Homo sapiens: one gene and its partner. The protein of the gene in region 1 interacts with the protein of each later gene in a pairwise test. Each region holds a gene or a part of one and is shown on either strand. Other genes may lie near its edges.

Region 1 (4,206 bases):
AGCCTGGAGAAGCTGGGCAGGACAAGTAGGACATCCCTGGAGCCTCCAGAAGGGACTGGCCTCTGCCCACACCTTGACTTCAGTATTTCTGACCTCCTAAACTCTAATAAAGTCATGCTTACAGCCACTAGATCTGCAGAAGAGCCCTCGCTTGCTCCCCTAGAAGATGGGCCCACATGGCCTCTTCCTGCAGTGCCTGGAGGGTTCTAGCTCCTGAGGTGAGAACCAGGACAGGTTCTGCTGGGCATCACGCCAAGCAGCACATGCCCACAGTACAGCTGAAGTCTGGTGTTGTCCTGGGGCTCCCTGCCCTGGGGAACAGGAGGACAGGAGACGGCTCTTGTGGGAAAGCTGTTTACTGCGTTCTCCCGCTGTGTGTAATTGGGTTCAGTGTGGCTGAAACACAGCTTTGCCCCAGGCTTTGGCACTTCCAGCCCCAGGAGAGGCGCTGAACCCCAGCAAAGGAATGTGTTCCCTGTGGGCAGCCGGTGCCCCTGGTCACTGCAGTTGCCCAAGGCTGATATTTCCCTGGGATCCAGCTGGAGATGTTGGGCTGGGAGGCCCTGTGGTCACTCATACTGCAGGAGAGAGAAGAAGGGTACAGGTGCCAGCTTCTCCCTGCCCTTAAGCGAGGTCAGCTCCACCAGGCTCACGCACTCCAGGACCTCAGCCTGCAGGCGGCCCAGCAGCTCACAGGCAGCGTTCATGGTTCCTGGGGATGGGAGGGTGAGGTCCCCAGTTGGCCTGGGCTGCAGAGAGCAGGTGCTCCAGGCCAGCCCCTGGGTTGGGGAGGGGAAGGCATGGGGAGAGGAAGGTGTCGGCCTGGCCACCAGGCACCCTCTGGACAACAGTAAGCTGCATCCCATGTCACACAGCGAGGTCCTGTCCCACTCCCACCAGGCCCTTGGAGCCACAGCAGTTGGCTGCGGGGAGACCCTTACCACCAGTGGCCAGCAGATCATCCACGACGACCACCCTCTGTCCTGGCTCCAGGGCGTCTTTCTGAATCTCCAGCTCAGCCTGGAGTGGGAAGTGGTGTGTGGTCCTCAGCCTCCCGCAGAAAACAGCTTTGTTGCACAGCTTGGCAGCTGCCACCCTAGACCCTGACTCCAACCCCACCTTGCTGTTACCTGGCTGTGTGAGCCCAGCCTATGTCTCAACCTCTCTGAGCTCCCAAGGCCACTGTAACCACAGCAGCTCCACTTGACACGCCTGGGAAGGCCTTTTAGAACTGGGGGAGAGTGGCCACGGTGGCCTGGCCCTGCCCTTCCTCTGGCCACCCCAGCCCTCTTACCTTCCCGTACTCCAGGGAATAGGAGGCCCACAGAGTGGGGCCTGGCAGCTTCCCCCGCTTTCGGATGAGCACGCAGCCCAGTCCAAGCTCCTGGGCCAGGGAGGGGCCAAAGAGGAAGCCTCGGGAGTCTAGGCCTGTCAGGGTAAGTGACAGGAGTGACTCGGCAGCATGGGAATCCCCAGGGGCCAGGGTTGGCCGGTGGCAAGGGGTACCTGGTTGGCTCCCAGCTGAAAGGCCAGTGACATGCACCATTTAAGGAATGTTACCCATCACCTACCCGGAGCTGCTTCCAGGTCAGAGTGCAGACCTGGGTCTGTCTTTTAAGGGACCACTTCTTAGCTGTGTGTTCCTAGGGGAGTCACCACCCCTCTCTCTGAGCTGAGCAGCCCATCTGTAACTGGGCTGGTAGAAACCTGACAGGCCTCAGCTTACTCTCAAAGGCAGCTCTGCACCAGGGCTTCTGTCTAAAAAGGGAGTCTCTCGAGGTGGCCTGAGCTGTGATGGTTGGGGGACGCTCAGGGAAACCCTGCCCCGGCCTGGCAGGAGGTCAGGGAGGGCTTCCTGCAGGAGGTGAGAAGGGAGCTCTGGCAGTGTTGTGGCTCCAGCAAGAGCTGGCGCTTTCCTCAGGGCAGTGTCCAGGGAGTGGGCTGTCACACCCTAGGAGAGGCAAGACGGCCAGGAACACTCTGTTCTCCCTGGGCCACCTCTTGGGCTCTCCCGGAGGCCTCCAGGCCTCCCTTCCCTGGGTGGGCATTCCGTGATCTTCACCAGGGAAGGCCTGGCTCGTGGCAGGCGCTCAATACCAGCTCGCAGAAGGAACAAGAAGCAAGGCAGCTGGGCCCTGTGGATTCAGCTTGGGCACTCCAGGGAGACCAACTGACCCGGCAACTCGGTCACGCCTGTCCTGGGCTGGGGACCCGGAACCTGCGGGAAGGACGCCTGCACAGCGCGGCGGCCTCGGGGGCTCAATCTCACAACCCTTCCCGGGCGACCCAAGCACGGCGCCCGTCCCGGCGCCCCCTGAAGCACCCCAAAGGCCCTCCCCCAAGCAGACGCGCAGAGCCCACGTGCTGCCCTCGGCGCGCGCAGAGGCGGAAGCGCCCTAGATGCGGCCACTGGGCACTCGCCTGCGATGTAGTCGATGCGGCCCCCGTGGGTCGCCTTCAGGTGTCGCGCCAGGAGGCCGATGGCGGCGCGGAAGGAGGCGGGGTCCTTCAGGACGGGCGAGATGTCCCTGGACCCAAGGACAGGCCTGGTGACGCCGGGGCCGAAGGAGGGCAGGGCCCCGGGGGCGAAAGACGAGGGTTCCCGCCCCGCCCGCCCGGAGGTCGCGGGCCACGCGCTCCCATCCGTAGGCCCGCAGGTCGGGGCGCCACGAGGGCGGCCTGTGCGTGCACCTGAATACCACGCCTGGGGTGGGGAAGTCGGGGAAGCTGCGGATCCGCTGCTCAACCAGCTGCAGCTCGGAGTCGGCCATGGCCGCGTGCGAAGAGCCAGCGGCAGCCCGAGCGCGCCTGCGCGGGGACGGGCGGGACCGCCACGAGGGGTGGGGCATCCCCGGAGGGCGGAGCGTGGGTGAGGGGCGGGGCATCCGTCGCCGGAAGCCTGTACCGTATTTCATGGACTCCTAGGCGCCATCGATTTTAAGACGCGCTCGCATTCCACGCACCACTGAGCAGAACGTTCGAACCGGACAAAAGTGCGAGTCAAGGCGCCCTTCCTTGTCTCGGGCTACGCTTCTGACTGCAGCCAGGCAGCTGTGGGCCGGGGCCTTGGCGGCTGGAGGAGGGGCGTGAGCTGGTCTCGCCCACGCACCTGGCGCGCGTACGGGCCGCGCCCTTTCTCCTTTATTGGCCGAGATCCCCACGCTGCGCGCGGGAGGCTGGCGCGCGGGGTGGAGAAGGGCGTGAGGAAGCGGTCCAAGTAGCAGGAGGGCGGTGCAGGGCCCGGAGGGAGCAGCCCAGGGCGGAGGCGGCGGGCCTGGGCTGGACCGGCCGGGGGCGCTGGCCTCTCGCGGATGGGCCCTGCCGTTGAGGCGGCTCTTCCCCGCCCGGACCCGGGGGAGGGAGGCCGGAAGGTGTGGCCAGGCCAGGGCGCGCATCCGCGAGGGCAGAAGCCCTTCTGTCCGCCTGCAGAGGCCAGGTGACCCCTTAGCCTTGGGGTGGGGAGCTGTGAACCCCCTGGCCGCCCGAGGACTGGTACCCAGGGGGTTGTGTGAGGCATAACTCCCCCCAAACACAATTTCCTTTCAAGAAAATCCCCAGAGCTAAAATGCCTTGTGCTCTATTCCAAGACTTTTCTTCATTTCGCAACTTTTTTTTGAGAAGGACTCTCGCTCTGTCGCCCAGGATGGAGCACAGTGGCGCCATCTGGGCTCACTGCAAGCTCCACCTCCTGGGTTCCGGCCATTCTCCCGCCTCAGCCTCCCGAGTAGCTGGGACTACAGGAGCCCGCCACCACGCCCTGCTAATTTTTTGTATTTTTAGTAGAGACGCAGTTTCACTGTGTTAGCCAGGATGGTCTCGATCTCCTGACCCCGTGATCTGCCCGCTTCGGCCTCCCAAAGTGCCGGGATTACAGGCGTGAGCCACCGCGCCCGGCCCATCATTTCGCAACTTTTACAATTCAGCTTTGGCCTGGCAGTTACTGCAGAAGGGAAAACCCACTCAGTGGAAGGCAGCCCCCAGGAGCCTTCGGAGGGGGAGGCCGGAGGCTGCATGCGGCTGCTGGGGCCCCGGTTCCAGGGCGGGTGGGGGACCCATCGTCTGATGCCAAGGGGCGTGGTAGGGGCGGCTGCCTCGCAGTGTGCGGTGGTCAGGGCTGGCAAGGCCTGGGGCCTGGGCTCCAGACCCCTAGGGAAGGTGGAAATGGAGGACCCTGACATCCTCACGTCCCCGGGGAAGCTGCCACAT
Region 2 (4,036 bases), on another chromosome or scaffold:
AGAATTAAATACTTGCACATACTTTGTTGTTAACAAACCAAATCTAGGTCCACTCATCATTAAAAAAACATGCTAATGATACTGGTTTTTTTTGGTCTGGAATTGAGAGGTCTTATGTCACCCCAAGGGTAAAAAAACTGAAGCTGTGGCCGGGCGTGGTGGCTCATGCCTGAAATCTCAGCACTTTGGGAGGCCAAGGCAGGTGGATCACCTGAGATCAGGAGTTCGAGACCAGCCTGGCCAATATGGTGAAACCTCGTCTCTACTACAATACAAAATTTAGCCAGGCATAGTGATGCATGCCTGTAATCCAGCTACTCGGGAGGGTGAGGCAAAAGAATCGTCTGAACTCATGAGGCGGAGGCTGCAGTGAGCCAAGATTGTGCCACTGCACTGCAGCCTGGGCAACAGAGTGAGGCTCCATCTCAAAAAAACAAAACAAAACAAAAAATGAAACTGAAGCCAAAAGAAAACTCAGTAAAAAGAAAAGGAGTTTTAGAACATCGTGAAAGTCAGGAATATAAATCAGAAGAACTAACTACCCTTCCCTCCCATCCAACCTTCCTCATCAGTGGTTCAGACTGGTTATAAGAGTTACCAAATCATAAGTGTAAGTGATGGCCTTCTTGTTATCAGTCTGATAGGCGAGACGAAGAGCGTCATGCAAAATTAACTCAGCCTCTTCTGGCTCATCTTTCATAATGCTCAACTGAAAAGGGAAGACAAAATAATAGAAAATGAAACATATAGTAGATGCATATGCTAAGAGACAGAAGTGTATGCAACTGTACATCCCAACTGATAGAAGGAAGCTAACTCATTCATCAGACATTTACTGAATTCCTACTATGTACAAAGCATTGTCTACAGAGATGACAGGGAGGTCAGCCTCCCTTGCAGCTAGGTGTGGCCATCTGATGAAGTTTTGGCCAAGAGACACAGGCAGAAGGAATGTGATCTTACAACATATTTTATAAGGAAGCTGCTTGTCCTCCATCCTCTTTCTAATTTCTTGCAGGCTGGAGGTGACCATATAGGACAAGTAAGCTTAATTACAACTAATGATAAGAGCTATAAAGATGACAGAAAGGAATGATAAGGGGTCTCCTCTAAATAGGACTTAGGGAAGCCTTCCAAGGAAGTGACAGCTAAACTGAGGTAGTAAGGATGAGAATGAGTCAACCAAATAAGGACCTGGGGAGAACAATGACTCAAACAGAGGGTAGAGAATGAGTGAAGTCCCTACAAGCTGAAGAGAATGGTTTTGAGGAAGAAATGCAAAGAAATAGATGTGAAGGGAGGATGGTGAGCCAGAGGATTACTGCCAAATGGGTGGGCAAGGTATATGCTGGTTTAGATCATGTGGGGTGTTGCAAGCCAAGGCAAGGAGTTTGTATTTTATCATAAATGCAGTGGGTAGCCATTCAGAGCTTTCTGACAAGGAGATGACATAATCCAATTTACTCTTTTTTTTTTTGGTCGCTTTGGTTTCTGCATGGAGAATAGATTGCAAGAGGCCAGGAGGCCAGGAAAGACTACTGGAGCATAGTTGGTGGCAATGATGGTTTGCACTAGGGTGACAGCAAGGGAGATAGACAAAAGGGGAAAGATTTGAGAAATATTTTGCATTTGTTGGCAACAGGACTTGTTGCTGGACTGTAAGTGTATTGGAAGGCAATGGTAAGGTACCACAAGTTTTAAGAATGACTATGAGGTTTTTAGGCTGAAAAACTGATGGTAGTAAAGAGATGGCGAAAGCGTATGTTGAGGAGGCATTAAAGATCGTTTAGTTTTGGGCATGTTAAATCTGAGAGGTAGGTATGGTCCTAAAGTGCAAATGGCATGTCAGTAGCACACTACAGAATGGAAATACAAATTTGGACGTTGTTGGCATCGAGTAGGTATTTAGCTCAATGGAAGAGATGAGATAACTTGGGAAAAGAGGAGGAAAAAAAAATAGAAAAGGATGTGGAGAAAAGGAAGAATTCAGGAGGAGAACCGAACCGCATAACCAACACTAAGTTGCCATTTTCAGGCCGCTATATACGTGCGAAATTATGTCATTTCAGATAGGCTGGTTAATTGATAAAACCACTACAAAACGTTCCCGATATTTCGTTTGCATAAAGCGTGATGCCTAGGGCGCCATCTCCATTTGCACTTGACACTGCAGAGGTTTTACTGCAGGCCTTAGAGTCGGAAAAGCCTGGATGGATTCCAATCCCCTCTCGGATGACCCACCTCATTCTCGGCAATTTTACCCGCGGAGCCTCCATCCACTCTTCGGCGAGGCGGAGAGAGTAATGCGCAGCAACGCCAAGACCCCGCTCACAAAGGCTACCGCGCTCGGCCGGGCGCAGGGCCCGGAGCCGCCTCACCTTGGCTCGCTTCAGCAGCTGGATGATCTCTGCCTCGGCCTCGTCCGCCCCGTCCTCGGCAGCGGCCCCGTCGGCTCCCTGCTGCTCCTCCTCCTCTGCCGCAGCGGGCCTCGAGAACCAGGCGAGCGCTGCGGGAAGGGGCTCTGAGGTCATCGGGCCCGGCCCGCGCCCCTGTCCCCGCCCGGCCGGCCCCGCCCGGCCCGCGCCCCTCACCTGCCAGCAGCGGCAGCAGGCCTGGGCCCCGGCCGTGCGGCGCGACTCGGGATGGCGGCACCTGCACCTCGGGCCCCGGACCTCCTGCCAGCCCCGGGAGCAGGCGCGCGGAGCAGCCCCGGCACCGCCGCCCCGCGGCCCGCAGGAAGCCTCGGCCCAGGCTCCAGCTCAGGAGCCGGAACATGCTCCCGCCGCGTCCTCTGCGCACTGCAGGCCAGACGCGCTCCTGGCCCCCGACCACGCGCCGAGCGCCCTCCGGATTGGCCGGGCCCTGACGACTGAGCAGGACATCCCTGCGTCCGCACGCGCGATGACGCGCCCCGACGTCACTCCGTCTCGCCCTGCCCCGGCGGGGGGTCAGGATCCTCCACAGGTAGGCGCAGTCAGCTGGAGCGTCGCGGCGGTCCGCCGGTCGTGGAGGGCGTGTCCTGCGGCGCGATGGCCGTAGTGTTGCCGGCGGTTGTGGAGGAGCTCCTGAGCGAGATGGCGGCGGCGGTGCAGGAGAGCGCGCGAAGTACGGGACCGAGGTCGTGTGTGGCTGCGCCATGGGCGCGGGCGGGGCATCCGGGCACCGCCGGGCCGGGAGGCAGGAGGCGGGGTGTCCGGGCCTGGCCCTGCCTTTTTTCCATGTGGTTCTCTAAACCTCTTGTTCGTAAAAAGACAAAAAAACAAAACAACAAAAAAGCGAAATTGGAACAAGTAAAAGTCAAATCGATTCAGCAAATATTTACGGTACAGCGCAGTTGCAGGAGCCCCTCCGTCGGAGCGAGTAGGCCAGTGGGGACCGAAGTGCTGAGAGCTGGCCGGGTCGCTGGGAGGGGTCCCCGCCCGGGGGTGGAAGGGACGGGAGCCTACAGTGAGTGATAGAAACGTGGAGTTCTTGATTATTTTACACGAAATTTTGAATTATTAAACTTCTTTTTCTCAAATTCTGATGTTAACATTAAAGTTAATGCTTCCATACACTTTAAAAAGTAGGCCCAGCGCAGTGGCTCACTCCCGTAATCCCAGCACTTTGGGAGGCCGAGGCAGTTGGATTACCTAAGGTCAGGAGTTCGAGACCAGCCTGGCCAACATGGTGAAACTTCGTCTCTACTAAAAATACAAAAAATTAGCTGGGCGTGGTGGCGGGCGCCTGTAATTCCAGCTACTCAGGAGGCTGAGGCAGGAGAATCGCTTGAACCCGGGAGGCGGAGGTTGCCGTGAGCCGAGATCGCGCCATTGCACTCCAGCCTGGGCAACAAGAGCGAAATTCCATCTCAAAAAAAAAAAAAAAAGCATTTTAAGAGCCACAAAACCTAAATGCATATGCAATCGTTGGAGTAAATCTGGGTATTGTGAAAGCACCATTTTTTTTCTGACCAGCAGAGGGTACTCTTTGGCTATGCTCACCAAAATCACTTGAGAAGGGTTGATCTCAAGATGTGTTCAGAGTATGCTAGGAT

What was found.
Region 2: the proteins of APRT (region 1) and TTC19 interact in binary tests that used the Homo sapiens proteins (3 or more experiments, as listed by UniProt).

Annotation. Positions count from the first base shown.
Region 1 is NC_000016.10:88,809,129-88,813,334, forward strand, and holds APRT (adenine phosphoribosyltransferase), read right to left. Parts: upstream 2,801-4,206; 5' UTR 2,772-2,800; coding exon 2,692-2,771; intron 2,529-2,691; coding exon 2,422-2,528; intron 1,429-2,421; coding exon 1,295-1,428; intron 1,021-1,294; coding exon 942-1,020; intron 713-941; coding exon 570-712; 3' UTR 211-569; downstream 1-210. UniProt on the Homo sapiens protein: Catalyzes a salvage reaction resulting in the formation of AMP, that is energically less costly than de novo synthesis.
Region 2 is NC_000017.11:15,998,588-16,002,623, reverse strand, and holds the start of TTC19 (tetratricopeptide repeat protein 19, mitochondrial isoform 1 precursor), read right to left. Parts: upstream 2,801-4,036; 5' UTR 2,776-2,800; coding exon 2,592-2,775; intron 2,507-2,591; coding exon 2,379-2,506; exon of another isoform or gene 2,242-2,378; intron 710-2,241; coding exon 599-709; intron 1-598. Other genes in the region: ZSWIM7 (zinc finger SWIM domain-containing protein 7), read left to right, coding at 3,030-3,105. UniProt on the Homo sapiens protein: Required for the preservation of the structural and functional integrity of mitochondrial respiratory complex III by allowing the physiological turnover of the Rieske protein UQCRFS1.